2 separate regions of the Homo sapiens genome follow, and region 1 is linked to region 2. The links come from fine-mapping of genetic effects on plasma protein levels. Region 2 holds a variant in brackets. A gene starts in the other region. All regions are shown on their forward strands.

Region 1 (15,231 bases), not on the chromosome of region 2:
AGCATGGCCTGGAGAGGTGAACAGAAAGAGAAAAGACATGCTTATGCTTCATGGACATGGTTTAGGGCTTGGCTCAGCTTCTAGAGGTGACAAGAAGCCCCCATTCCCTCCTTCTGTCCTCTGCTATGGGGCCTAGAGCAGCAGGAATCCAAAAGCAGTTTAAGGACAAGGAGGGCACAAGGTCTGGATGGAGAGCATGAGTTACCCAGCTGGAACTCTGACATAGGTTGACAGCAGCATCCCCCATTCCCAGGTGCTCATGTCTTCCCTTCTTGTGCCTTCCCTTGGGCACTAAGTTTGGCACAGTGGCTAGGATGTAGCATTCCTCACTGGGGCCATCTGTCACATCAAGAAGGGTTCATTGAGTGCCTCTGGGCAGGACACCCCCCGCCCACTCCCTAGACCATCTCCCTGTCTGTACCACTGAGGCAACTGGCTTAGCTCAGACAAGGCAAGCCTGTTTCTTCTCTCTTGCTGCCTTGCATGGACTAGCACTGGTGCTGATAGTGCTGGTCTGAAAATGCAGCCAGAGTCCTGAGTGCTTAGTAATGTCCTTCCTGAGCGCAGGCTGGGAGTGTGGTGCACATTTGCCTGGCAATTTGCCATTCCTCGAGCAGGTGCTGTCTCTAGAGAAAAGTCCCAGAGGGAACCCAGGTGAAAGTTTTCAGAGACACTAAACTAGCAGTAGGAGAAATCCTGAGACACCTAGAGTTCTTCTAAGACCTGAGAGGGTTTGGAAAAGAAGTATGTGGAGTCTGGGCACGGTCGCTCATGCCTGTAACCCCAGCACTTTGGGAGGCCGAGGCGGGCAGATCACTTGAAGTCAGGAGTTCGAGACCAGCCTGGCCAACATGGCAAAACCCCATCTCTACTAAAAGTATAAAAAATTAGCCAGATGTGGTGGTGCGTGCTGTAATCCCAGCTACTCGGGAGGCTGAGGCAGGAGAATCTCTTGAACCCGGGAGGTGGAGGGTGCAGTGAGCCGAGATCGTGCCACTGCACTCCAGCCTGGGCAAGAGAGTGAGACTCCATCTCAGAAAAAAAAAGAAGTCTTATATGGAAAGAGGACATGCCAGGTAGGCTCAGTCAGGCAGAAAGCTAGTGTTGTGGGTAAGCAAGAGCAACTACCCAACAGGGCACCCATTTACTATCTAAGATGGTCAGGAACTGAGACCAGGATAAGAGCAGGACCTGGGACATTAACTGTTTTGGGTATCTTTTCTCTCAATGAGAAACCGTAAAGTTATGAGAGTGAAAAGAGCTGATCAGATTCGCAGAGGCTAGGAACAAAGCCAGAGGGACTTGTGCAAAGAAAGGGGTCACCAGGCCAACTGGGGTGGTGGCAAGTGGGGGGCTTCCTGCCCAGAGGAGTGCCTTCTTCTTTGACTGCTGGTGATTCTGGGCTGTGGATGACCCCTATTTCTCACTAGCCTCTTTCAATTTTGAAATCACCACTTCCTTGGGTATCCTGGTAGTCTCTAGAAACACCTGGGTGAGCTCACTGCCAGCAGCGGCTACCTTGTTACACCTGTTCTGGCAGAGGCTCAATCATGAGCAGCAAGGGCCAGACCCAGGCCAGAGCAAGGGCATTGTTCTGTGCCCCGCAGCTCCCTCACCCCTCAGGCCCTGTGTCTGATTCTGGGGAAGAATGAAAGGCAATAGGCATTCTGTCTACAGGCTCAAGATGGCACAGAAGGCACCAGCAGCCACTGTGGCTTGAAGGACACTTGGAGAGGGCAGACCCGGGTTTTCAGGCCCAGGATTCAGATGAGGCATCTTAGCTGGGGCAGCAGATGGAGTGGGCAGAGTTGTGGTCCCCCTCAACCCCTGCAGTGCCCAGTTTATGCTAAGCTTTCAGAGTACAATTTCATTGAAAAGGCCATCTCCTCTGAACATGGATTGGAAAATCAGAGACCTACTCCAGTAAGTATATTTTTTAAAGTAAAGACCTGAAGCTATGAGAAAAACAGGCTTGCCCTGCTTTTCCACAGGCTGTTGGCACCAGGATGGGTTTAGAACCCCAGCCTGTGAGTGCCTGGGTTTGTCTCTCTTCCACTGTCCTTTCTGAAGAAATCAGTGCAGAAAAGAGCCTAGAGATAAATTAGCATTGCATTTTTCCACCTGAAGCTTCCACACTGTGGCATCCCAGGTCTAGATAGTGTCACACCCACTCTTCCACCCTGTGCACCCCCAGCTCAGAAAGCAAATCCTCCCCTGGGCTGAGGCCACTGAATAAGGGGCAGAAGAGCACCATAAGACCTCCTGTGCTCCCCACCTCCTGCGCCCATGCCTCCTAGACCAGAACAGCTACACAGACCCTCCACACCAATAGGTTGAATTGCCCAGGTCGGCAGAGGGATATTTATAGGATGTGGAGAAAATAAAAAGAAGGCAAGAACAGAGACACTTACAGGTTTCTTTTTGTTAGGCCCCAGGAGCTCCAAGCAAACTAGCCTTTGCTTGGCAGGCACTCACTATTTATGCCTGCCCTGTACCCTGAGCTGCCCAGCCCCAAAAACTCCCTTCAAGAAGTGGGGCAATTTTCTTCTTTATTGACTCACTCACTCTTATCCCCACCTGCGTTCTGGAAACCTGCCACTGATATTCACAATACTATGCACATCCATCACTATAGTTTGCAGAACACTATCAGGCCTTGAACTCATCTGCACCTTTCTCACTGCAGCTCTGTGAATTAAGTGGCATCATCAGTGTCTGTATTTTATAGATGTCTAGAAATCAGGAGTCCAGAGACCAGCAGGTTGCACAATGACCTACAGCGATTGCAAAAGGAACTCACAACTGCAGATCTTAAGAGCCAAGACCTGCTGTGTCCACTTCTCCTCTTCCTTTGTCTCAACAGCACTGCCCAGATATTGGGAAAGAGCTGAGAGCTGCTTGGAATACCTGGGCAGGGGTGGGGCAGGTAGAGTGGCTGCAGAGGCAGCAGCATGTGGGGGCAGCAGCTAGGGAGCTGCCACCTGGAAAGAGTTGCTCTTTTGCATGCTGCTCTAGGCCTCAGAGAGCCCCTGCCTTGCTTGTCTTTTGTGGGATGGATTTCCCTTAGCAGACCTCTGCCTTGCCTTGTTCAGGCTTGTTCTCCCTGCCATCTTAGCTGGTGTTTGTCTTGTGCACTGTTCTTGTAACTAGTTAGGACCCCTGAGCTGATGCTACTTTTATCCAATCTTTTAGTCTGTATGTATTTTTTTTTTTTTTGAGACAGTCTCACTCTGTCACCCAGGCTAGAGTGCCATAATGCATTTATAGCTCACTGCAGCCTCAAACTCCTGGGCTCAAGTGATTGTCCTGCCTCAGCCTCTTTACAGGTGAGCATGATCACACCTGGCTAATTTCTCTTTTTAATTTTTTACAGAGATGGGGTCTCACTCTGTTGCCCACGCTGGTCTCAAACTCCTGGTCTCAAGCAATTCTCCTGCCTCAGCCTACCGAAGTTCTGAGATTACAAGTGTAAGCCATCATACCCAGCACCAATCTGTATCTTTTAAGTGGAACATTTACTCCATTTATTATCAAGGTTAATATTGATATGTGATGTTTTGTTCCTGTCATGATAATTGTTACCCAGTTGCTTTTTAGTCTCAATTATGTAATTGCTTTATATAATCTGTGAGTTTTTCACTTTAATGTGCTTTTATGATGAGGAGTATTGTCCATTCATTTCCATGTTTAGAACTTTAAGCATTTCTTGTAGTGCTGGTCTTGTGGTGACAAATTCCCTTTGCATTTGTTGTATGGGAAAAACTTTATTTCTCCTTCATTTATGCAGCTTAGTTTAGCAGGATACAAAATTCTTGGCTGGCAGGATTTTTGTTTAAGTAGATTAAACATAAGACCCCAATCTCTTCTGGCTTGTAAGGTTTCTGCTAAGAAGTCCATTGTTAGTCTGTTGGGTTTTCCTGTATAGATTAGACATTTCTCTCTTGCTGCTTTTAGGATGTTTTCCTTCACATTGACTTTGGATAGTCTGATGACGATATGCCTTTATGAGGTTTCTCTTGTAAAGCATCTTCCAGGTGTTCTCTGAGCATCTCCTATCTGGATGTCTAATTCTCTAGCAAGACCAGGGAAGTTTTCCTGAATTATTCCCTCAAATAGGTTTTCCAAGCTTTTAATTTTTTTTCTTCTCCCTCAGGAATGTCTATATATTGTATATTTGGTAACTTTATGTAATTCTATATTTTTCAAAGTCTTTGTTCATTTTTAAAAATTTATTTTTTCTGTATTTCTGTCTGACTAGGTTAATTCAAATGACTGGCCTTCAGGCTCTGAAATTATTTCTTCTGCTTGGTCTAGTCTTTTGCTAAAAGTTTCAACTATATTTTATAGTTCCTTCAATAAATTTTTATTTCTAGAAGTTCTATTTGGTTTTTGTTTTTTAATCTCTATCTCTTTTGTAAATTTTTCATTAATATCCTGAATTATTTTTCTGATTTCCTTATGTTAGTTTTCAACTTTCTCTTGTATCTCATTGAGCTTCCTTACAACTCATATCTTAAATTCTTTATTTGTTATTTCAAAATTTTTATATTGGTTAGGATCCATTGCTAGGGAGCTGGTGTGATCCTTTGGGCATGTCAAAATACTGGTTTTTCGTACTTCCAGAGTGCTTATGCTGATTTCTTCTCATCTAGAGAACCCGTTACTTCTTACTTTTGAACTTACTCTCATTTGAATGGGATTTTTTCCCCCTTTGAAGGTGTGACTGTATGTTGTGTGTGATCATTTGGCTTCAATTTTGGGTGCCTTCCGTGGGTCACAGCTCTGTATGAGTTCCTTGGTCATAGATAGCTTTTGTGTGGTGGCTTTATTATGCTGTATAGATAGCTTTTGTGTGGTGGCTTTATTATGCTGATTGTAGTAGCAATGTATTGGGCATATGAGCAGGAATACTACCTTCTGAGGGGCTGGGAATGTGGAAGTCTCTGAAAGTTTATCTCATTCCCCAGCACTATACCCTCTGTCAGCCTGTTTTTTATTTGGTTGTGCAATTCAATCTGCATCCCAATAAAAGCTGGCTGTGGCATAAGCTGATGGGTACTTGGTCTTTGTTTTCTGGGAGGGGATCTCTGTTGTCACAGGCAGTTGGCTGGTCTGTGGATGGCCTGATTCCCTGAAGGGAACACAAAGCTTTGGAGGGGGACACAAAACTGAGGGGCACTAAACGACCAAGCTCACCCTGGGAAACCCCAATTATGAGCAGAAGCAACTGCCTTGATGGGAGTGGAAATGGGAGCTCATGGTGAAAGGCACTGATGTCTCCACCAGAGTGGGAAGGAGTATACCAGCTCCACATCCTGGGAAGGCAGGAAGGCAATCCACTTTCCTAAAACACCCTTGTCCCGGAGCTTGTGACCTTCAGTTCAGATAGACATTGTCCTTCATCTCCAGGCTGCAGTGTGATGGAGGTCTGCAGAAAACACCCGTCCTGTGGCTACCACCAAAATGGCCTTGGGATAGAACCTCTTCCCTCAGCAGCTCTGATATTCATCTGCATTCTGCTATGGGAATGCTGCTGCTCCATATGGGGAGGAGGATAAACTCTGCCCTTCGTGCAAGGCTTGGCCAGCAGGCACCCCATCAATGGGAGTGCAGCTGCCCCCAGGAGCCCTCAAAAGCCATCCCCAGGTGCACTTGTGCCAGCTCCCAGTAGGGACAGCCAACGGTCTATCTGGAGCATTGAGTGAGGGGGTAGGAGAAGACTCCCTTTCCATGTTTATTCCCAGGCACCAGTGTCACCTGCCTACTGGTGCAGAACCACACTCCTCCCCTTCAGACCCCAGAACCATGCCTGTGTCTCTGCTGGGAGGGGCACAGCCAGCCTCTTCTCACACGTGGGGAGCTCTTAGGCAGAGGAGAGCAAATGAACTGGTTTCTTTTATCCAAAGGAGTACGTTGGCACAGACACTCTCCCTTCTCCTAAGAGCTAGACTTCTAGGAATTCCATAGCTCCCCAGGGTCCCACCCGTCCCCTGTGGTTGCTGCAGTCTAAGTGGGTTCTGGGGAATGTTCATGGAGGATCTAGTGATGCAGAAACACAAGGGCTGGGATTCCTTGGGAAGAACAGACCCACAATGGGTGCATAACCAGTATGACACCTGCCACTTCAACTCAGGTTTTGGGGGAGAGCGAGTGTGCCTGCATGAGCTGGCCACCCAATGCTCTGCCCTAAAGAAGTTCCCAAATTGCCACTGACAGCAATGCCTGGGCTCACAGGTGCAGAGGGTTTCTCCAACAAGTTCAGCAGTCCATAGTCTGCCACAGGAGTGAGGGGAGCAACTTCCCCTCCTACCCTCTCCATGGGACTCTATGTTCCTTGGAAGTCAATCTCTGCAAAACTCTTGCTGTCTTCTTTTTCAGCACCACAGCTTTTTCCTGTGGGTTCCCCAATAGGTCATGTCACTCATTCCTCAGTATTCCACTCAGACCATGATTATTCAACTGCAATTTTGGTTCTTTGTTCTGAGGAGAACTGGTGTCCAATGTCTCTAGACAGCCATCTTGGGGAAAGGAAAACTCTACTTGTCTTTATAATTACTTTTACCAGTGAAACTTATACTTTTGTGTGCATTTGTGTTTCTGTTTAACCTCTTTTTATTTCAACCTCGAGAACTTCCTTTAGCACTTCTTGCAAGGTGGACCTAGTGGTGACAAACTCCCTCAGTATATGTTTGTCTGGGATAGTTTTTATCTCTCCTTCACTAATAAAAGACACATTGCTGGGTACAGAATTCCTGATTGACAGGTGGGTTTTTTTTTTTTTTCTTTCAGTACTTTGAATATATCATTTCATTCTCTCCTGGTCTGCAGGGTTTCCACTGAGAAATCTCGTGATAGTCTTTTGGAGGTTCTCTTTTATGTGACAAGTCAGTTTTCTCCTGCTGCTTTCAATTTTTTTTCTTTGTATTTGACTTTGGACAAACTAATTATAATGTGTTCAGTATAGACCTCTTTGGGTTTGTCCTATTTGGGAAATTTTGGGCTTCATGAATCTAGATATCTGTTTCCTTCCCTAAATTTGGGAAGTTTAAAGTTACTATTTCTTTAAATTTTTTAAATTACTTTAAATTCTACCCCCTTTTCTCTCTCTTCTACTTCTGGGACACCCATAATACACAGAAAGGTTTGCTTCATCGTGTCCCATAAGTCCCATAGGCTTTCTTTACTCTTTTTTATTCTTTTTTTCTTTTTGTTCCTCTGATTGGATAATTTCAAATGACCTGTCTATGAATTTGCTAATTCTTTCTTCCACTTGATTGAATCTCCTGTTGAAGTGCTCTATTCAGTTTTCAATTCAGTCCTTGAGGTCTTCAGTTCCAGGATTTTTGTGGGTTTTTTTTTTTATATAGTTTTTATTTCTTTGTTATACTTCTAATTTTGTTTATGTATTGTTTTCCTGATATTTTTTCATTGCCTTTCTGTGTTCTCCTGTATCTTGTTGAGCTTCTTTAAGATGATTATCTGAAATTATCTGTTGAGCAGATTGTGGTTTGGTTTGGTTCATTTCTTTTGGTTTGGTTACTGGAGCTTTATTAGATTTATTTCATGGTGTCATGTTTGCCTGATTCTTTATGATCCTTGTATGCTTGCATTGGTGAGTCTGCATTTGTACAAGCAGCCAGATCAGAGATTCTGGGTAGGTTGGCTGATAGGGTCAGCAGACAACCCGCTGTTGGTGACCACAGGTGGGCCTATTGCTGAAATCTGTGGGTAGGTTTGCTGCATGTGTGTGCTTGCTGCAGGTGTCCGCACATGGAGGACCTGCTGCTGGGGTACACATTTGAGCAGGCCTATTGCCATTGTCTGCAGGTGGGGTCTGCCTGCTGTCAGTATCTGCAGGTATATTTGGCTAATTGTTGTAGTGGTGGGTGGGTGGTGGGTGCTGCAGTAGGGGTCTGCAGGTGGGCAGGTTGCCTTGGAGTTTGTGGATGGAGAGGATCACCAACAGGTCTGCTAGTGTGCATGGTCACTGCTAGTTTGCAGGAGGTGGAGCTGTTTGAGTTCTGTTGACTAGCCTTCTATTGGGGCCCTGGATGGACAAGTCTGTTAATAAGGGAATAGGATTTCCTTCTCAATGAGGCTTTTTGCAGTCTTAAGTCCCCCAAGTGTTAGGAGAAAAGCTGAGTGTTGGGAGAGAAGCCAAGGCAGGGCTTGGAACAAGTCCACAGTGCAGAGTCTAAAACCCCTGGTGGCCTTGGGAATGTATCTAGACTTGCTGGCTCCTTGCTTCTAGCACTCCCATTATCTCAAGTAGCCATATGCTTCAAAGAAAATGCTAAACCATCACAGCTATAGCTCATTCACTTGATACACCACTTCCTTTCAACCCCCACATCCTCACCACCTGTTTCTTTGTTTGATCACCAATAAATAGCTTGGGCCTCCAGAGCTTGGGGCCTTCGCAGCCTCCATACTAGCAGTGGTCCCCTGGTGCCAATTTCTCAACTTGTCTTTTCTCATTCCTTTGACTCCACCAGACTTCGTAGCCCCCACAGCCTGGTGTTGGGTCTGATCACCCCAACACCAAGGAGCTGGAACCTTTTACTTGGATCCCAAATGTTTTATAAAGGCATTTTGTCCATGAATAGTTGTTAAATTGGTATTTCTGAGCAGGAAGGAAGGCTGGGGATCTTCTGTGCTGCTATCTTCTTGGTGTCATGAGACTATAATTATAATGTTTTGAAGAGTAAGGTTTTATCTTAAAATATTTACCACCTTGCTTTGCAACTAAGTTGCAAAGAAAGACAAATATAGGGATCCTGAAGTAAAACAAAACAAAACAAACAAACAAACAAACAAAGAAAACCCTGCCATACCTTATGTTCTGCAAAATCTTGAAGCTTGATAGTCTAAACCTGTAATCCTCCACCCCCTCTCTCCACCACAACCTCACAGAAAAGGTAGGATTGCTTATGCTCAGGTGCTATCTGTTGTTGCAATCTAATCTGTTCACTAGATTCTGCAACAATTGTCAATGGGCTGAATCCAATTCACATGCATATGCAGGTTCTATGAATGTCTAACCTAATAAAAATGACAAAGTGAGAGTGCTTGAAACTACCTTTTTGGATGAGAATTCTAGGCACTTTACTCTTTGTTTCTTTAAATATTAACACAATAAAGGAAAAACACTTCACTGTGTAGCTCTATTATTCACTAGAGAAAGGAGTGGTTAAAGAGAAACATCTCTACTGCATCCTGACTGGTATTACTTCTGTCTCCTGCATCATTTGAAACTACTGAGAAAGAGCATGTCTTTTAATCTTACTATTGATAACTGAGTCAAAGACAAAGAGGCAGAAAAAAATATGAAGCAAATGTTGGCGGGAAGTAAAGAGATACAACCATACTAATTTCAAAAAAACAGAATTTTCATCTAAAAGCATGACTTAAAAAATCGTTATAGAATCCATCTGATTTTATATGAAAATGATTTATATATTTATTGTGAAAATGTTAACATTGTGAGAAAAAAGTTTAAAATCACCAAAATGGGGATGGAGCCAAGATGGCCGAATAGGAACAGCTCCAGTCTACAGCTCCCAGTGTGAGCGACACAGAAGACGGGTGATTTCTGCATTTCCATCTGAGGTACCGGGTTCATCTCACTAGGGAGTGCCAGAGAGTGGTTGCAGGACAGTGGGTGCAGCGCACCATGCACGAGCCAAAGCAGGGCGAGGCATTCCCTCACTCAAGAGCACAAGGGGTCAGGGAGTTCCCTTTCCTAGTCAAAGAAAGGGGTGACAGATGGCACCTGGAAAATCGGGTCACTCCCACCCTAATACTGTGCTTTTCCAACAGGCTTAAAAAATGGCACACCAGGAGATTATATCCCGCACCTGGCTTGGAGGGGCCTACGCCCACGGAGTCTCGCTGATTGCTAGCACAGCAGTCTGAGATCAAATTGCAAGGTGGCAGTGAGGCTGGGGGAGGGGCATCTGCCATTGCCCAGGCTTGATTAGGTAAACAAAGCAGCCGGGAAGCTCGAACTGGGTGGAGCCCACCACAGCTCAAGGAGGCCTGCCTGCCTCTGTAGGCTCCACCTCTGGGGGCAGGGCACAGACAAACAAAAAGATAGCAGTAACCTCTGCAGACTTAAATGTCCCTGTCTGACAGCTTTGAAGAGAGTAGTGGTTCTCCCAGCACGCAGCTGGAGATCTGAGAACGGGCAGACTGCCTCCTCAAGTGGGTCCTTGACCCCAGAGCAGCCTAACTGGGAGGCACCCCCCAGTAGGGACAGACTGACACCTCACACGGCCGGGTACTCCTCTGAGACAAAACTTCCAGATGAACGATCACGCAGCAGCATTTGCGGTTCACCAAGATCCGCTGTTCTACAGCCACCGCTGCTGATACCCAGGCAAACAGGGTCTGGAGTGGACCTCTAGCAAACTCCAACAGACCTGCAGCTGAGGGTCCTATCTGTTAGAAGGAAAACTAACAAACAGAAAGGACATCCACACCAAAAACCCTTCTGTATGTCACCATCGTCAAAGACCAAAAGTAGATAAAACCACAAAGATGGGGAAAAAACAGAGCAGAAAAACTGGAAACTCTAAAAAGCAGAGTGCCTCTCCTCCTCCAAAGGAATGCAGCTCCTCACCAACAACGGAACAAAGCTGGACGGAGAATGACTTTGATGAGCTGAGATAAGAAGGCTTCAGAAGATCAAACTATTCGGAGCTACAGGAGGAAATTCAAACCAATGGCAAAGAAGTTTAAAACTGTGAAAAAAATTAGAGGAATGGATAACTAGAATAACCAATGCAGAGAAGTCCTTAAAGGAGCTGGTGGAGCTGAAAGCCAAGGCTCAAGAACTACGTGAAGAATGCAGAAGCCTCAGGAGCTGATGCGATCAACTGGAAGAAAGGGTATCAGTGATGGAAGATGAAATGAATGAAGTGAAGCGAGAAGGGAAGTTTAGAGAAAAAAGAATAAAAAGAAATGAACAAAGCCTCCAAGAAATATGGGACTATGTGAAAAGACCAAATCTATGTCTGATTGGTGTACCTGAAAGTGACATGGAGAATGGAACCAAGCTGGAAAACACTCTGCAGGATATTATCCAGGAGAACTTCCCCAATGTAGCAAGGCAGGCCAACATTCAAATTCAGGAAATACAGAGAACGCCACAAAGATACTCCTCGAGAAGAGCAACTCCAAGACACATAATTGTCAGATTCACCAAAGTTGAAATGAAGGAAAAAATGTTAAGGACAGCCAGAGAGAAAGGTCGGGTTACCCACAACGGGAAGCCCATCAGACCAACAGTGGATCTCTCAGCAGAAACTCTACAAGCCAGAAGAGAGTGGGGGCCAATATTCAGCATTCTTAAAGAAAAGAATTTTCAACCCAGAATTTCATATCCAGTCAAACTAAGCTTCATAAGTGAAGGAGAAATAAAATACTTTACAGACAAGCAAATGCTGAGAGATTTTGTCAACACCAGGCCTGCCCTAAAAGAGCTCCTGAAGGAAGCACTAAACATGGAAAGGAACAACTGGTACCAGCCACTGCAAAAACATGCCAAAATGTAAAGACCGTCAAGGCTAGGAAGAAACTGCATCAACTAACGAGCAAAATAACCAGCTAACATCATAATGACAGGACCAAATACACACATAACAATATTAACTTTAAACATAAGTGGGCTAAATGCTCCAATTAAAAGACACAGACTGGCAAATTGGATAAAGAGTCAAGACCCATCAGTGTGCTGTATTCAGGAAACCCATCTCACATGCAAAGACACACATAGGCTCCTTCGTAGAGGAAGATCTACCAAGCAAATGGAAAACAAAAAAAGGCAGGGGTTGCAATCCTAGTCTCTGATAAAACAGACTTTAAACCAACAAAGATCAAAAGAGACAAAGAAGGCCATGACATCATGGTAAAGGGATCAATTCAACAAGAAGAGCTAACTATCCTAAATATATACGCACCCAATACAGGAGCACCCAGATTCATAAAGCAAGTCCTTAGTGACCTACAAAGAGACTTAGACCCCCACACAATAATAATGGGAGACTTTAACACCCCACTGTCAACATTAGACAGATCAACAAGACAGAAAGTTAACAAGGATATCCAGGAATTGAACTCAGCTCTGCACCAAGCAGACCTAATAGACAACTACAGAACTCTCCACCCCAAATCAACAGAATATACATTTTTTTCAGCACCACACCACACCTATTCCAAAATTGACCACATAGTTGGAAGTAAAGCTCTCCTCAGCAAATGTAAAAGAACAGAAATTATAACAAACTGTCTCTCAGACCACAGTGCAATCAAACTAGAACTCAGGACTAAGAAACTCACTCAAAACTGCTCAACTACATGGAAATTGAAAAACCTGCTCCTGAATGACTACTGGGTACATAACGAAATGAAGGCAGAAATAAAGATGTTCTTTGAAACCAACGAGAACAAAGACACAACATACCAGAATCTCTGGGACACATTCAAAGCAGTGTGTAGAGGGAAATTTATAGCACTAAATGCCCACAAGAGAAAGCAGGAAAGATCCAAAATTGACACCCTAACGTCACAATTAAAAGAACTAGAAAAGCAAGAGCAAACACATTCAAAAGCTAGCAGAAGGCAAGAAATAACTAAAATCAGAGCAGAACTGAAGGAAATAGAGACACAAAAAACCCTTCAAAAAATTAATGAATCCAGGAGCTGGTTTTTTGAAAGGATCAACAAAATCGATAGACTGCTAGCAAGACTAATAAAGAAGAAAAGGGAGAAGAATCAAATAGACGCAATAAAAAATGATAAAGGGGATATCACCACCGATCCCACAGAAATACAAACTACCATCAGAGAATACTATAAACACCTCTACACAAATAAGCTAGAAAATCTGGAAGAAATGGATAAATTCCTCAACACATACACCCTCCCAAGACTAAACCAGGAAGAAGTTGAATCTCTGAATAGACCAATAACAGACTCTGAAATTGTGGCAATAATCAATAGCTTACCAACCAAAAAAAGTCCAGGACCAGATGGATTCACAGCCAAATTCTACCAGAGGTACAAGGAAGAGCTGGTACCATTCCTTCTGAAACTATTCCAATCAATAGAAAAAGAGGGAATCCTCCCTAACTCATTTTATGAGGCCAGCATCATCTTGATACCAAAGCCTGGCAGAAACACAACCAAAAAAGAGAATTTTAGACCAATATCCTTGATGAACATTGATGCAAAAATCCTCAATAAAATACTGGCAAACCGAATCCAGCAGCACGTCAAAAAGCTTATCCACCATGATCAAGTGGGCTTCATCCCTGGGATGCAAGGCTGGTTCAACATACACAAATCAATAAATGTAATCCAGCATATAAACAGAACCAAAGACAAAAACCACATGATTATCTCAATAGATGCAGAAAAGGCCTTTGACAAAATTCAACAACCTTCATGCTAAAAACTCTCAATAAATTTGGTATTGATGGGACATATCTCAAAATAATAAGAGCTATCTATGACAAACCCACAGCCAATATCATACTGAATGGGCAAAAACTGGAAGCATTCCCTTTGAAAACTGGCACAAGACAGGGATGCCCTCTCTCACCACTCCTATTCAACATAGTGTTGGAAGTTCTGGCCAGGGCAATTAGGCAGGAGAAGGAAATAAAGGGTATTCAATTAGGAAAAGAGGAAGTCAAATTGTCCCTGTTTGCAGATGGCATGATTGTATATCTAGAAAACCCCATCGTCTCAGCCCAAAATCTCCTTAAGCTGATAAGCAACTTCAGCAAAGTCTCAGGATACAAAATCAATGTACAAAAATCACAAGCATTCTTATACACCAATAACAGACAAACAGAGAGCCAAATCATGAGTGAACTCCCATTCACAATTGCTTCAAAGAGAATAAAATACCTAGGAATCCAACTTACAAGGGATGTGAAGCACCTCTTCAAGGAGAACTACAAACAACTGCTCAATGAAATAAAAGAGGATACAAACAAATGGAAGAACATTCCATGCTCATGGGTAGGAAGAATCAATATCGTGAAAATGGCCATACTGCCCATGGTAATTTATAGATTCAAGGCCATCCCCATCAAGCTACCAATGACTTTCTTCACAGAATTGGAAAAAACTACTTTAAAGTTCATATGGAACCAAAAAAGAGGCTGCATTGCCAAGTCAACCCTAAGCCAAAAGAACAAAGCTGGAGGCATCATGCTACCTGACTTCAAACTATACTACAAGGCTACAGTAACCAAAACAGCATGGTACTGGTACCAAAACAGAGATATAGATCAATGGAACAGAACAGAGCCCTCAGAAATAATGCCGCATATCTGCAACCATCTGATCTTTGACAAACCTGACAAAAACAAGCAATGGGGAAAGGATTCCCTATTTAATAAATGGTGCTGGGAAAACTGGCTAGCCATAAGTAGAAAGCTGAAACTGGATCCCTTCCTTACACCTTATACAAAAATTAATTCAAGATGGATTAAAGACTTGCATGTTAGACCTAAAACCATAAAAACCCTAGAAGAAAACCTAGGCAATACCATTCAGGACATAGGCTTGGGCAAGGACTTCATGTCTAAAACACCAAAAGCAATGGCAACAAAAGCCAGAATTGACAAATGGGATCTAATTAAACTAAAGAGCTTCTGCACGGCAAAAGAAACTACCATCAGAGTGAACAGGTAACCTATAAAATGGGACAAAATTTTTGCAACCTACTCATCTGATAAAGGGCTAATATGCAGAATCTACAATCAACTCAAACAAATTTACAAGAAAAAAAACAACTCCATCAAAAAGTGGGTGAAGGATATGAACAGACACTTCTCAAAAGAAGACATTTATGCAGTCAACAAACACATGAAAAAATGCTCGTCATCACTGGCCATCAGAGAAATGCAAATCAAAACCACAGTGAGATACCATCTCACACCAGTTAGAATGGCGATCATTAAAAAGTCAGGAAACAACAGGTGCTGGAGAGGATGTAGAGAAATAGGAACACTTTTACACTGTTGGTGGGACTGTAAACTTGTTCAACCATTGTGGAAGTCAGTGTGGTGATTCCTCAGGGATCTAGAACTAGAAATACCATTTGACCCAGCCATCCCATTACTGGGTATATACCCAAAGGATTATAAATCATGCTGCTATAAAGACACATACACACGTATGTTTATTGTGGCACTATTCACAATAGCAAAGACTTGG
Region 2 (16,675 bases):
TCAAGCTGACACCCAGTATTAACCATCATAGTAGTTGTTTTTCTCATAATATAGTCAAAATGCCCAGTTGAGCCAGTAAAGTTTTTCCACCTTGAGTGGATTACTTGGCCATGTGTTCATTCACTATAAAACAAATATTTACTGAATGCCTACTATGTTTTACACATAATGCTAAAATTTTCACGCAGTTTTCTCCCTGTGACTTAGGTTAAGTAGTTCATGCAAATTGAAAATGTTAATGTTATACACTTCTTTTTGTACTTATTTTCTAGTGTGATAGTCATTTTTAGGCTAGTAAACCTTCCTCATTTCTCCTCAGGAGAAAAAAAAACAATGTATTTGCATTAAGGAGGTTCCCCCTCATTTTTCAGTTATGTTCATCTCTATGACCCACTTATTTAGGTTCTTTGGAAAAGGAGAATTCACCCTGTGTGGGTCACCATATTAATTACTATTACAAGGAGCTGATTTATGGCCACAGAGCCCTTGCAGGTGTTTGAGAATGGTGCTCCACAATGGGAAATGGAAACAGGGTAATCAATAACCACCCTGAGACTCCTGCTTTAAGGCTGTCCTTGAAGGTGTGCTGTGGATCTTTTTCCAGCACGTCTGAAGAGCAATCCTTTTGCCAGCAAGGAGCCCTACGGGAGGAGAAGTAAATATTGTCTTTAGACATGGCACAAGGACCAAAGACACTGCCAAGACATCAATACTGAGATATCACAGAGGGCTTGTTGGTGGAGGAGGGAGGCTGGTCACAGGCGGGAAGGTGAGATTTCTTCTTTTGACTGCTGAGATCACTGGACTTGCAGTCAGAAGATCTGGGCTCCAGAGCTGGCTCTATCCTTTATCAGAAAAGTAACCTTGGACACATTACTTAATCTGTCCAAGCAACAGTTTTCGCCTCTGTAAAATAAGCATACTGATAGTACCTATACAATGTAGAGATTAGTTGAGATAGTCAAAGTTCTTTCTGTTCCAGGAAGTGCTTTCATATAGTCTTAATGATGCTTTTGCTCTCATTCTGTCCTTTTCATGTGAACTATGACTTTGGTGAGGGCAGGGCCATGCCATATATAATACTGTCTTTAGGCCTTAGCACAGGGACTGGCACACTGCAGGTGATGAAAGGTCTTTGTGAAGGATTGCATGCATCTTCCCTTCCCTTGTCTTCCTTCTACTTGCTTTCCACTTTGCCCCCTCTTAATTATCCCCAAATACATGTTGAATTTATGAGGGAGCAGCAGGGAGGGCCACTTTGGAGAGAATCATTACTCCACTCCCTTTCACTGCATGGCCTTTTCCCTAGGCTAGTCAGAGAGCTATTTGAGCTAGTTAAGTATAAGACCACTGAGTAAGAATGTTGACTTCCAACCAGGCTGCTATATCCCAGTTTTTTAGCTTAAAAGTGGCTATTGCGGTGCCTTAAATAAGTATAAATCCTGACCAAAAGAGAGCAAAAAGTTTAGCCTGGCTGAATTTTGAATCCAACCATAAACTAGAAAAAGAAGGAGCGGGAAGACTCACCACGAGGCTGTATCAATAGCCCCAGTGTGAGAAGGCTCAAAGAGTCTGGCCTGAAGCTTGAGCTACCACAGCAGTGAGATGATTTCTAATTTTAGAAATATTAAATAACTGATAATGATACGACCTTGTTAAAGAACCATGTTAGGAAAAAAAGGGACACTGTTAAAAATAGCGTACACTTTCCCTGCTGAAGGTTCCAGGTAAAACGTGGGTTCACAACCATAATGTAGGTTCCAGATGACGAGACAACCCACATTGCTGACAAATGTGGCAAGGCCAAGACTCCTGTGTGTCCTGGAAGATACGCATTTTCAGCAACCAGCAGGGCGGCTAAGTATAAGCACTGGGAAATCAAAGAAATAGGACTGAGTCCTTGTTCTCAAGGGGTGTGAAGTCTAGTCACCAGCCTAATGGTGACTCCAAGATATCCTAATTTTAATATGTGAAGCTGTGCTACAGTGCCCAAGACCTAACTGGGGAAAAGCAGCCTCATGCAATGCCTAGAAATGTCTGAAACATTGCTGCTGGCATCCTATAAAACAGGAATCTGAAATGCAAAACCGAAATAAAACCAGCAGGCCTCACTCTGGGAGGACAGAGAAATGGAAGATGCAGTAACCCTGGAAGGTTAACAGAACCCCGGATAGCTTCCCCATCCTGCCCAGTGCCACAGATAGGCACCTCTAAAGCTTGGCTACCTCAAGGATCATTAAATGCTTTTAGCAAAGCTGTCTCTGAGGAGCAACCAGCTTTGAAAGCCAAACTGAAAAATGTCCATCTGATCTTGTAATTGGAGAGAAAGTAGGATCTGTGCCATGATAACACATTAGAGTCATTTGGAGATGAGGGAAAGGAAGGGGTGGTCTCATAATTAGCAGGAGCCTGAGAGTGCAGAGAGGGGATGTTTCTGGAGTCAACACTGGAATTTACTTGGCATCAGATGCCATCAGTCCCTCCCTATGTGACTCTAAACACATGAAGAATTTGCTGAGTACACCTTGGCTAAATCTTATCTGAGTTTCTTCATGTCAACAATACTTCCAATCATACGGTTTAAAACTGGTTCTCCACAGGGGGCAGTTTTGTCCCCCAGGGGACATTTGACAATGTCTGGGGACATTTTTGATAGTCCTCAGTTGGAAGAGATTTTCTACTGGCATCCAGTGAGTAGAGGCCAGGGAAGCTATTAAACTATTTATTGTAAGACAGCCCTTCACAAAAAAGAATTATTCAGCCAAAATGCCAACAGTGCCGAGGTTGAGAAGTCATAGTTAAGAATAATGAATATTTTCTGAACTGCCATCATTTTCAGGATTCTTTTACTTTTATACCTTGAAAACAAAGGAATTGGCTTACCTATCATCACTACAGTAATAGAAAATTCCCAACAATTAAGATGCTCCAATGGTGTTTACTCATTCTTTTTTTTTTTTTTTTTTTTTTTTTTTTGCGGGGCAGCGGGGGGAGTCTTATAAACAGAGACCTTAGACAAGAGGTGAAGGGACTTCTGCAATACTGTCAGAGTCAAATACCTTGAGATTTCACTTTGTTCCCACATCTGAGGCCATCAGCCCTCGCCAGACCTCACAGCCTGAAATAATGTTTTGGAAAAGCCAAATATAAAGATACATGATTTTTTAATCTGCTGGGAGTGGGTGGGACCACACTACTGTTGAGAAAGATCTTTCTAAATAGTAGATTGGATTATGTGGCTCTCTTCTTGAAGCTTTCAATGACTGCCCACAGGACAATATATTGCACTGTTCTTCTCCATCTGGCTCCTACCATATCTCCAACCATCTCATCTTCTGGATCTTCCCAGCTCACATCATTTACCCCAGTTATACTGGATATCTTGTCTTCCCCAAGATGCAACTGTCCCATCACACTTTTCTTGTTTTTAAACATGGGAGTGTTCCCCTGCCCACAAGGTCCTCCACCCTATTTTCCAACTAACTCCTAGCTGTCTGCTAAGAATGATCTCAAATGTCCACCACTTCTAAAACTATTTTCTCACCTGGCCCCTGCTCCTTCCCAATACCCTGGCCTAAGTCTGGTGCCCTTCCCAGAAAAACCTGTATCTGCTTCCAGTATAATACCTACTGTCCTGAATTTCAACTAATTATGCATCATCTCTAGGCACTTTGAAGAGAAATGGTTTCCTGTTCATCTCTGTATGTACATCAACCCTCCGGGTATGGTGCAGGGCTTGAGTCCCTAACAAGCTTTCAACTACTATTTGGGAAAGAATAGAAGAAAAGTACAGGGTAGGGAGGAGGACAGGGTGAGGAGGGAAACAGAAGACAAGAAAGGAATGATGATGGAAGGAAGAAAGTGGGAAGTGAGAAAAGGAAAGAAAAGGCAGGAGGGAAGCAAGTAGACTGGGAAGGAGGAAAGAGAAAGGAGGAAAGGTGAGATGGGAAGAGAGGGAAAGACAAAGAAGGAAGAAGGAAGGGAGAAGGAAAGAGATCAAAAAGAGAGAAGGAAGAACTCTGCTAATATCTCTTGCTTAGAAAAGATTTATTCTGCTCTCTCTGACTTGAATCGAATCCCTGCATTAACTATCTTCAAGAACCACATAACTCTCTGGCATAGCACTTTCCCCATTTGTAATTATAGATGTATCTGTGTGATTATTTACTACAATGCTGCAGCCTCCATGAGGTTGGCTTCTACATTTTCCTTCAGTGTTATAGCTTCAGTACATATTGTGTCTGTGAAAATTATTTGCTAAATAAATGCAAAAGTGGGCAGACTGGTGGAGCAGAACCAGCAGCTAATTTTATTAGTAAAAAGTCAGCCCCTCTGTTTTTTATAAACCAGGCTGGGAACTTAGATTTGGTCTTGTTTAACCTTCACCTAAATTTTTCCATATTAAAAAACTTCTTCTGCTTCTAGAAAGAATTGTTCTAAAGCATTCAAGACAGTGGCAAATACATTCTCACTTTAAAAATCAATCCCAGGAGCAATTTATTACAGGGAAATTTCCTGGACTCCAAGAAGCACCTTGAAGTCAGGAGATGATTAATTTGATATAACTGAAGAGCTGCAAACATCTGCTCCCCGTTGACATCTGCCTCTCATTAAGTTACAGCCCTCTGTCTCCCTCTGCACTGGGGGCTGGCTTGTGTGTTGATCTGGTAACTCTAATTATATGGTAAGCCCAGTGCTCAAGGCCCTTGTGCCAGCCACCTGGTGGGGGCTCAATAAAAACTTGCTCTATTGCATTGTACTCCAGATCCACCCTGAGCACTTTGTAAGTCCTCCATCACTCCTAAATAATAGAAATAAAAAACAGTAATGAGGTTGGTGGACACATTGTCATCCTGTAGCTCTGGCTACGGCTGAATCCAGATAGAATCAAACCCTTGATTGAGTCACATAAACAAACAAATTAAATCCATGAAAAATCTTCCAAATCTGTTATTTGGCATCAGGTTTTGCAATAACTCTTTAATTGTTATCCCTTACCCTGTTATCGCCTTTCCCACCGACGTTGCTATCAATGTAATTGTCTTAAAACACACTCTGATACTGAGCCATCCTATTCAGAAACTTCAGAGGCTCTGCTCTGCCCACGAACACGTACCACCTTCCTAACCTTGACTGTTAAGCCTTCCACTTCTTTGAATAAACCTAACCTCTGTGCCAGTACTTCCCTTCAGACATCCCTGTTTTTAGTTATATGGTATGATTTCTTGCTTCCCAGTTCTGCTAGTGCTCTACCACTTTCATGCCTTAGCAAATGTAACTCACATAAAGCCCACGTGCCATATGGCACCATCTTGATTCAGTGTGTGTCATAGGTATATCAACCCTGACCCAAATAGACATACAAATAATTTAATCTTTACTGCAGTCTTTCATAAACATACCCAAAGCGAGAACATAGAAAAACTTCCTAAAACCTCTCTTCTCCCATTTCTTTCCTTCCTTTCCCCCGATATGCCTAGGCTCACCTAAAGTCTCTCTTCTCCCCAACTCTAAGCTCCCACTCCAAGATATTCTTCAAGCCCACCTTCAGGTTCTTTTGTCTCCCTTCCTAAGCTCTTCATATCTGTATCATTTCAGCCTCCCTGACTTCTTAGAACTTTCCGGTAAGAGCCCTGGAGCTAACTCAATAAACAAAAAAAATTCTTCCAGGCTAGGACATAGGGTAAGGGAAAAAAAATTGAAAAAATAAATTATTTTAGTTTGTCTTATTCCTGTCACATTTACAGTGTACACTCTGCATGGAATACTGTTGGCCCATTTCTAACATCAATACCCCACTCAATAGTTAAAGCCCAGAACAAAAGATCGTCCTCGAAACATTCCATGATGCCCTCTTAGAGAACTTTGCACATTCTATCTTTTCTTATAGCTTTTGGTGTAAATGTCTTATTTCTACTTTTGAAAACTGAGACTCAAGGTCATCTGTAAAACCCTTATTTCCCTTCAATACTCACCTAAATATCACTTCTAGGGCAAAGAGTTTCCTCTATACTCACCCAAAAATTTTTTCCAGGGCAATGGCTTCCCTCACTTTCTTTCTAGCCTTGGCTTGGTTATTTCTTTGATGCCACAGCAACTGGCACTAACCTGATATATCATAATGAAATTCTGTGGATTATTTACGTGTCTGTTTTGCCTTCTCTCACCCCGAACATGTATACTTTGAAAACAGGAAAATCTCTTATTCATCCCCAAACTTATCCAAGTACTCAGCCAAAACATGTTCTCAGAAAATGTGTGTGTACAATGTCATGTTTATGAAGTTATGTATTCTCCACAATATCTGTTTCTATACTGTACTCATTGTAGATTCTCGAAAAGTGTATTTGGAATTGAATTGAACATATATGAAACATTCAGCTTGATTGATTTTCTTCTTTGACATAACTTTATCTGTTTGGTGGTCTAAAAAGGTTTTCAAAGTGAAAAACTGGTGGAGAGAAAACAAAGGATTAAAAATAAACTAGTTTGACCAGTTTCTTTCCCTGTGGATATAAAGCCAAACTTGGAGCTTTGTCTAAGGAAATCACACTGCCAGGCAAAAGATAATAGGCTGAGAGTGGGTCCTTCTTTTGCAGCCTGCAAGGCTGCAAGACCTTTCATTTCTGTATTAGAATATTCTGTTATACTAGGCTCATGTGGCTCCTTTGGTTAATGGTGACAGAAAATGTCACTCCAGGGCCACATAACTGCAAATACTACTGGCCTAGAAGCTGAAACAGATTGATACTATTGGCAAACCACACCTAGGCGGCTTTTTATAAGAGGCGGGAGAAAATAGAGTGATTAAACATAATCACTCTTATGCATCGTGCAACTAATCTCCAACATCCCTGGACTGCTCTCCAGGCTC[T/C]ATAACTTACACCCAATCCATGGAGGTAGGCCCATTAACTATGTTTCCAGTACATAAAGGAGTCTACAAACAAAAATTCATTAATTCTTTCAAAATTCAGTCCTTCTCCTGTGGAGCAGGAGCTTGGAGGAAAAAGGATATTTTTTTGGCAAAGGTTTTGAGTCAGAAGTTCAAGGTAGAGGCAGCCTGGGGAAGAAAAATACTGTTGGTGCCTATGCTCCCTGCTAGCTCCAGCCCCAGGAGTGGGTTATGAACCCATTCCCCTTGAACAGACATTGGTTTGCATGGTGGTATGGTTGTAATTCCAGCCAATGAGGTGTGAGCTGGAGAACTGTGGGAAAGCATATCTTTTCAAAAAAAAAAATCAACAAAAGACACATAAGAAAAGCTGGTCTCTTCTTTTTCTCTGGACATTGTCTTGTCTGGCTGTGTTATGTACAACTGCAGCAGCCATTTTGCAACCAAGAGAGAATCGTAGGCTGAGAATAAAGACAACAGTGGCAGATGTGAAAGAAAAAAAGACCCTCATTCTTGATACTACCATCTCTCTACTGAATAACCAACACTGGAGACCCCTTACTTCTGAATTTCTTGTAATATGAAATAATACATTTCCTTATTGTATTAGCCACTTAGAATTAGGGGGTTTTTTTGTTTTTGTTTTTTTTTGTTTTGTTTTGAGACGGAGTCTCACTCCTGTTGCCCAGTGGTGCAATCTTGGCTCACTGTAACCTCTGCCTCCCAGGTTCAAGTGATTCTTCTGCTTCGGTCTCCCAAGTAGCTAGGACAACAGGCATGTGCCACCACACTTTCATTACTTGAAGCCAAAATAATCTTAATACATTTGGATTACTGAATTAGTTAAAACTTTTGAGGATTATTTTTTTTTTAAGCATAGTTCTTGCACCTACTCCATCACAACAAACAGGTGAGAACCAGTACCTGTCTCAGCCACTTCCTCTTCATATCCCAGACCCCATGCTCGGCTGTGGACCATGTTACTGGTCTTCATCCTCAGCTGAGTGACCCATTGATTTACTAGATTAGGTCTAGACTGAACTATTGATTCTATTAATATATAGTCCCTTAATTACATGCCCAAATCACATACCACCCCTTCCCTCCTCCTTTAGACTTCTAGAACACCCACTTGATAAGCCAGCCTCCTGACACCTGTTGCAAGAAAGGGAATTTAGAACACATGCGGGCAGAGGCAAACTATATGATCTACTCCATGTTCTTGCACTGCATTTATTATGTTTCTGTCCATAGCCAGCACTTGGTTAAGCTCAGTGAATTAAAGGACAAGTTACCTAACCTCTGAGGGAAACTCAAGCTCTGAAAAGCCATTCCTCAAGCAACTACCTGGATATTCCTGTTTTTGAATGCATGAGTTTATTTATTTAATTTATTAAGGATTTAGTGAGCAGTTAATCTAGGCCCCATGCATTCTGCTAAAGATTGGGGATGCAACAGTGAATGAACCTTTTATTCATTCAGCAATCATATAATGAGTTTTTACTATGTGACAGAGAACCATTAGGGCTTAACCTATAAAGGAAAAAATATACAGAGATTACCCAGAAGGAGGGCACAGCAGGGACAGATGTTGTATGGTAGAGACAGACCTCTATCATATACTTATCCAAACACTAGGTAAAGGATAAGAGTAAGGCAAGAGAGAACATTCTAGACCAAGGAAACTGCAAGTACAAAAGCACTGAGGCAGGAAGAGGAATGGCACAATTCAGAAAACCAAAAGCTAGTGTTACTGGAGCACAAGAACAAGGGGGAAGCTATTTCAAGAGGTGGCTGTGAGAAACAGGAGGCAATGGCTCGATCACAAGACATCCTTTATACCATGTCAAGGAATTTGGACCTTTTCCTAAAGCTCCATTGGAAAATTTTAAGCAGGGTTATAAACTGACCAGACTTTTGCTGGAAGGGAGGGCCAAGCCTGGAGTCAGAACGACTAGTAGAAAAATAAACATGAAATAAGGAACATCTTAACAAAGACGGTGGCAATTGGGAATAGAGAAGAGAAGATGAAAGAGACATCAAGTCAGTGGAATCAGTAGAAGATAACTGCCAACAGGCTATTTTAAAAGCAGGGGAGGAAGAAGGACAAGGAGAAGATGATTCCCAGGTTTCAGGGGAAGGCAGTTTGAGAAGGAGTGGAATTAGACTGCATTTAGTTAACGACCTATTGTGTCCAATGTGGGGCATCCAAGTTAAGCATTAAAGACATGCAAGAGAAAAATTTGGGCTGGAAAAAAATAAATTTGGGTTCCACAGCAAATTGTGGGTATTTAAAAATGTGAGAATGGATGAGTTCACCCTGAGAAGCGGTATGTAGTGAAAAGAGAGGAGTCCTACTGGAGATCCCTGAAGACAGTCTATGTTTGAGGGGCTTTGGGCAAGACTACCAATGGAAAGCAATACATCAAACCAAAAGGCTGTTAAATAAAATGTTTAATCCCCCTGCTTTTAAAAATATACCTTTATGGCCGGATGTGGTGGCTCACGCCTGTAATCCCAGCACTTTGGGAGTCTGAGGTGGGCGGATCACCTGAGGTCAGGAGTTCAAGACCAGCCTGGCCAACATGGTGAAACCCTGTCTCTACAAAAATATAAAAATTAGCCGGGCATGATGGGGGGTGCCTGTAATCCCAGCCACTTGGGAGGCTGAGGCTTGACCCAGGAAGTGGAGGTTGCAGTGAGCCAAGATCATGCCATTGCATGCCAGCCTGGGTGACGGAGTGAGACTCCATCTCAAAAAAAAAAAATATAGATAGATAGATAGATAGATAGATAGATAGATAGATAGATAGATAAATATCTTTACAATAATACAAGTTTGAGTGTATAAAATGATGGTTTTTATGTGTCTAAAATTTGGCAAAAATTAATAGGATGACTGAGTTCAATTATTATTTTGAATGTCTGCATGCTCTGTTGATTGCCCAGCAATGTGCAAATGAGGGATTAAAAAAAGACGTGCACAGTTCATGAGTTATTATAAATTTATCCCATGAAATTTATCTCCTTGTCTTCTTTTCAACAAAATCACTAATGATGTTGTTGTAATCAAGATTCTTATATAGTCATGTTCTTTTCACGGTAGTGACAAAATAGAAAACTGAGGCAGTACCAACTGGAGATGTCAACAAAATTATTAAAGCAACATTTCAATTCAGAAATGAACCATTAATTTTATAGTTATGTTTTACATAACTGTAAATTACATGACCCATGTAATTTTACATGGGTCAACAGATGTAGAGAAGGATTTCCCCAAGCCTGAACAGCGTTAGTCACGAGAGCAGTTGTTTAAGGTTATGAGACATACAGTCCCAGTACTGAGTACTGGATCCCAATTGTAGTGGTGCCCTTGTGTCCTTTAATAAATGTACTGGGAGACTGTGACATGTGGGGCCTTCAAGAAGATGCTCCAGGCAGGGCTTCCTGTTGCTGAGTCTAAAGATGCATCTGAGGAGCATCAAGAGTTAAACAGTGGGTGGAAGAAGAGAATCCCGTGACAGAGTTTGAAGTATCATAGCCAGAGAAATTAGAGCAAAACCAAAAGTGGTACTATAAAAATCAAGGGAGAAGAATTTCTAAGTAGTTATCAACAAAGGCAAACATTTCAGAGAGGTGAAAAAAGCAGGACATTGAATAAACGAAATGTGGCATATTCATACAATGGAATGTTATTCAGCAATGGGAAGGGATAAGTTCTGAAATATGCTACAATGTGGCTGAATCTCAAAAACACTCTAAGTAAAAGAAATCAGTCACAAAAGACCATGTATTGTATAATATAACTTATATATAATGTCCAGTATAGGCAATTCCACAGCAACAGAAAGTGTTTTAGCAATTGTTGGGGGATGGCAGAGTGGAGGGAAATGGCAGTGACTGCTAATGAATATGGGGTTTCTTTTTGAGGTGATGAAAGTGTCCTAAATTTAGATTATGTTGATGGTTGCACAACTCTGTGCCATTGAACTGGACACTTTCTATGACTAACTTTACGGTATGTAAATTACATCTTAATAGAGCTGTTTAAAAAAAAAAGAAAAGAAAAAATAGGAAGATATATCTGCTACTTCTAAGATCAAACCACTCTATACAATCACACCAAACATTGTCCATCTAACTATGAAAAATCAAGTCCTGGGAGCCATCAGATGTTTAAGACTAATCTATCTTCCATGATGATTGGCCCATTGCCTCTGACCAAAAAAAAAAGTCTATTTATCGAGAAACAAGGGAATGAGATAAAGGGACCATTTCATAATAAAGGTATTTCACACTAAAGTAAACTTGAAAACAGAGAACATTTATGCAAAAAAAAATCCATTTACTATGTCAGTAATTTTCAGCATTTCCCCTGCTGTTATTGTAGATAATTGAGTAAAAGCTTTTCCTTCTCTACATAAAGCATCAGTTTCCAACTGATTCTCTTAGAAATTTAGTTTTGAGATCTCACTTCAAGATCATGACTGTAGAGTTTATGGGAAATGCATATGTGTTTGAGTAAATAGAACTATTTCCTTTTCTTCAGGCAAATACTTGCAACAACTGGAAAAAAACAGAAGAGGGAAAGAAAGAAGTAAAATCTCCCACCAAGTTTATCAACCCAGAGCCACAGCTACTGTTTTGTAATCTCCAGGCGACTATATATCTAGGCTATGAATCCACATCTTTTTCACCCAACTCACTATTCAAGATTTATGTGATTCAGGGTATTAAATGCTAATATATTTCTGTTGCTCAAATTTTTAATGTACGCATTAGTTCTGAAGTCCATAAGCTGGTTAATATTCACATTCTGGCTAACGCATAGTGTTGAATTTGTACCTTCTAAGAATTATTTTAGACTACAAGTTGGGGATATGATACCCACAGGCAAGCAAAATGTAATGGGGAGCTTAGTAACTTATAAGAAATCTTATCACTCTAACAATAACAAACACAAATAATAGGATAATTAACATATTTTTTACAGTTCATACAACACAGTCATATATAATACTTTGATTTTCATGAAATAGGTAGATCAGGTATTACTATCATCTCCATTTTTAGCTGGATAGACTAAGGTTGGTCAAAACCATTAAATGACTTGGGAACATATCCTTGCTCACTGTTTCCAGAGCCCTCTGTCTGTAACACTCACTTGTGTCTGATTACTTGACACGTGTCTTCCTCTCTAAGTTTCATGGAAACGTGGTCCTAGCACAGCATCTGATGTGCAGTATGTGCTCCATAACCATTTGTTGAATTGAATTGATCAAGTTCCCACAACTAGTGAGGCATGGAGACATGATGTCAGATGTCCATGTCACTTGTTCTTTTAAAGCCTTAGCTGTGTTTTATTTACCTATTGTTACTGTTGGCTCATAAAAATTAGAAGAAGAAGATGCCAAGTGAGACAGGTAGACTGGGAATGTTTATTTCTATACCATAAAATATTTATTTTTATACCTAAAACCACCTGTGTGAAACAGCACTTTGGCATATGGCTTAGTGATCATATGGCTTTATGGCCAGATAGCTCAGTGGTTGCATAGCCCAGTGGTCATAAGCCTCAGGGGTCATATGTCTCCATGGTCACGTAACTCAGTAGTGGGCTCAGTGATCGTATAGCTCAGTAGCTATAGAGGTCTATGAACAGATAGCTCAGTTGTGATATATATAGGCCAGTGGTCACATAGCTCCTTGGTCATATAACTCAGAAGTCATATATCTCAATGACCTTAATGGTTATATAGCTTAATTGTTCAGAGTCAGAGGACATATAATCAGGTCTTTTCCCCAAACTTCACTCTATCCTCTCCCAGATGTCAGTTTTTTAGCACACCACTAAACCTTCCTAAGCTGCAGTTTCCTCATCTGCAAAATGGAGATTAAAAAAAATTAAAATCTCCCCGGATTATTTTCATGGCAAAATGAAATCGGATCTGTAAACCATGCAGCACAATGTCTGGCACTTAAAAAGCATTGATTGTGCATCATTATCATCATTGTTATTATTACTCTTATTATTATTGTGTCCCTAAAGAGAAAGAAGAAAGTCTTTTGGGTTGAACACAGAATTGTCAACAGCAGAAAAGGCAATTTACTGATAACTGATACTTGATTTGGAGATAGGAAAGCTTTTACTCAATTTTCTGCAAGAATAGATGAGTAAATGTTAACTCTGTCATGTCTTCCATGTCACACTGCAACCCCCAGAGGCAAGAACAACATCTCCAGCTTCCTGGGGAGAAGTTCATTGACTTGCCAGTTGAAGAACCCAAAGCCTCCTAGATTATTCTCCTCTCATTCTCTTTCACCAGCCCTGAGTCATTTAATCTCCTCATTCCACCTTCATTGCTATGTGCAGTATTTTTTGTAGGCAATTACCACCCCACTTGATCATTTTAAAGAAGGGAATTTCTAAATCCTTTTGCAGCTTAGAGAAGCATGTTCTTTCATTTGTACACATACACACACACACACACACACACACACACACACACACACTTCCCTTTACTGCTAGGTATTATAATTTCCAATTTCAAATGCTTCTTATGAACACAAGAATTCCCAGCTATTGTGGGATGAAGAACTATGTCTTCCTCTCTGAGTCCCTTCGTCAGAGCCTCCCTGCCCTCCTGTCAGCCTGAGCCAGCCAGCAGCTCAGAATATGGTTGAAATAAATTTATACAGACATTGACACTTCATTATTGTCTTGTGGGTATTAGTAAAAGAGAGTATCAAGAGTAAGGAACTTAGGTATAATCCTGATTTCATCACAGTTTAGGTGACTGAGTTGTCAGCAAATTATTCCATGTCCCCATAACTTGATTTACATGTTTGTTAAATGAAAATATAATACCTAGTTCATTGACCTGTGGTAAGATTACAGAAATAAAAATATTTGGTAAAATATAAGACATTCCTCAAAAATATTTTAATTGTTAGACATGATAGTACAGAGAAAGAAAGGTAATGCAAAATTAATATGAATTTAGGACCCATTGAGTGATGGGTACTCTAACTGCTAAAATGTTACTTTTTTGATGTATGTATCAAGAAATTACCTTGTATCTACATTTATTTTTGTTCAAGAATTCTTTCTCTCTTCCTCTGGTGTGGAAGATGATGGCCAATGCTCTGTCTATATTCCCCTTCTCTCCTTACATCCTTTCTCCTGTCAAGCTCAGCTCTTCGCATTATTACTACTGTCAGCTTCAGACAAATATCTCACAAATTTACCCTGAAGCCTAGGGAGTCAGGAGACCACCAAGGAGCAGCACCAAGCAGAAGATTATCACATCATGGAGAAGCCCCAAGTGGTACCACTTCACCTAGATGGTGAGCTCCCTGGAGGTCAGTGCCATGAAGGACTCATGGGGAGATTTGGACCATTAAGAATGGGTAGAATTTAAATGGGTAAATATTAAAAAAGAGAAGGCTATCCAGAACATGGAAAGGTGTGATCCAGCATTGTAGGAATGTATAACAAGGGCATCTGGAGCATATGCATGAAGACTTTGGTTCATTTATTCATTCAACCATTTATCAAGTGCTGTATTACTTTTCTATGGTTGCGTACCAATTTACCACAAAGGTAGTAGCTTGAAAAAACACATACATATAATCTCACACTTTCCATGAGTTAGGAGTCGAGTCATGGCTTAGCTTGCTTCTCTGCTTGGGGTTTCATGAGGATGCTACTGGGCTACATTCCTATCTGGAGTCTCAACTGGAGGAGAACCCACTTCCAAGCTCATTCAGATTACTGGAAGAATTCATTACTTGCAGCTTTGTGACTGAAGTCCCATTTTCTTGCTGGCTGCCAGCTGGAGACCCCTATCAGGTCCTAGAGGCCACTGTCATATTCCTGCCACATGGCCGTCTTCAACAGGCCCTCTCACAACATGAAGGCTTCTTTTTTCAAGGCCATCAGGAAAATCTCTCTCCCTCCAGGAGGACTCAGTCCCTCTTTTAAGGGTTTTAATCTGATTGGGTTAGACCCACCCTGGATAAGTTTCTCAAAGCCAAGTAATTAGGGAATTTAACTACATCTGCAAAAATCTCTTCACCTTTACCAAATAATGTAACCTACTCCCAAGATTGGCATCCATCATATTAACAGATCCTTCCCACACTCGAAGGCAGGAGATTATATAGAGTATGTACACTATGGAGTGGGATTCTTGAGGGTCTTCCTATAATTCTGCCTACCACAAGCATCTATTATCTGCCAAGCAAATAATTGACAGAAATAATTTGAACAATAATCTGATGTGTTGTCTTCAAAAAGTTATAAATTGGATGATAAGCACAACAAGATTATAGGGCTAGATGAATAGGATTAAATGGGGGAAAAATACATGTAAAGTGTTTATCTCAGTGCCTGAAAAATGAAAATTAGTGTTCCAAAAAGTTAGTTCTTATTATTAAATAATTAAAATACAGTCTACTAAGAGGTGTATTAAAGTTCTGGGCAAGACATATATTGAATGGGGGAAATGCTCAGTTGTTTGGGAGATTAGAAAAGCCTTAAAAAATAGAAGCTATTGGATCTCAGTCTTCTCACATATTTTACCAGATTGGCCTTATTAGCCCATTTTTTAAAATGTTTGGAAACTGAGACTCAGTTAAGGAACTTACCCAAGGTCACTCAACTAGTAAAAGATGAAGGGATGAAATGCACGTTTCACACCGGCATCTTTTGGTGTGGGAACGCTTGTCCCTCATGGTATGTGTGTGTGTCTACAGCAACAAGGAGTCCATGTTAGCCATAGGGAGACATGTGTGGGGGTAAATACCCATATATCTGCCCTATCCATCGATGCTGAGTAAGAATGGAGCCCAGCATTATCAACCATCCTGATTATTCAAAAGAAACTTGAGAAACAAATTTTGTTTCTCAAAATTTGTTGGTGGGTTGATCACTTGAGGTCAGGAGTTCGAGATCAGCCTGACCAACATGGAGAAACCCTGTCTCTACCAAACAAGCTTATGTAGATAACATGGGTTTATGTCACTAAAAATCAGGAAAGGGGATTTAAAATTAGATAAAACAAAACAAAAAAGTAGGTACATTTGGTAAGAGAATTGCCTAATACCTAATCAGAATATTATATTAGGAAAATTGTCCTGGTCCTGGTGGGCAAGATGCATTACAAGGGAGCAAGGAAGTACCTAGGTGGATAGTTGATCCAAGGAAGCTGCATTTGTACTTCAGATGTGCAGCTGGATCAGTGGAGAACATTGGCAGAAGTGCTGGAAATGGGAATGAACAAGTAAGTAGGAGTTGGATAAAAGGCCTGGCAGTGTTGAACCCCTCCTCAGGACTCCCCCACCCTTTCCCCGAAAACCCTCTTCCATCTTCCCTCCCCTACTCACGTGCCATGCCTCAGTCAACCTGCACCACCCAAGTGTTGGCAATGCACTCCAGGCTAACCTTTTCAATGCCTGTTTGCTTGGTGTTTTCATCCCTGGGAATAGCCTTCCTCTTATTCTCCTCTGACAAAATCCTCATCTTCTGTCAATGCTCATATTAAGTACCACCTATTTCAAAGAATGGTCTATAATCTTTCCTGGCTTCCCAAATTGGTGTGATCTCTAGTTTCTCCAAACACTCAGATTGTACCTAAAAATTCACACCATACCACTTAGCACTTTGATACATGCTTTTATGGGGTTCTCTAATTGATTTTAACTCAGTACAAGGAAGGCCTTTCCAACAATTAGAGCTCTCTGACTGCCTATGAGGGAGGAGCTGCCTGTGAAGGCAGTGAA

Alleles and levels. Positions count from the first base shown, and alleles are read on the strand shown. Strength reflects both the effect of a copy and how common the allele is.
With allele T in place of C in region 2, the plasma level of the protein whose gene starts at base 2,451 in region 1 is higher (moderate association).

The links. PIP is the posterior inclusion probability: the model's chance that the variant is causal. The UK Biobank Pharma Proteomics Project read protein levels with antibody pairs (Olink). The fine-mapping took linkage between variants from a reference panel, not from the people measured, so its PIPs are less certain.
Region 1: it holds the start of SFTPD, and the variant in region 2 is fine-mapped to the plasma level of the SFTPD protein (UK Biobank, PIP above 0.99).

The regions. Positions count from the first base shown.
Region 1 is chr10:79,946,655-79,961,885 of GRCh38, forward strand. SFTPD (surfactant protein D) reads right to left here and starts at 2,451. Exons shown (of 8, transcript NM_003019.5): 1 at 2,412-2,451; 2 at 1-8. The coding sequence starts at 5.
Region 2 is chr9:106,727,475-106,744,149 of GRCh38, forward strand. No RefSeq gene overlaps it. Among named protein-coding and RNA genes, the nearest start is that of LINC01505, 120 kb to the left of the region's middle. The variant T/C (reference allele first, on the strand shown) is at 6,875.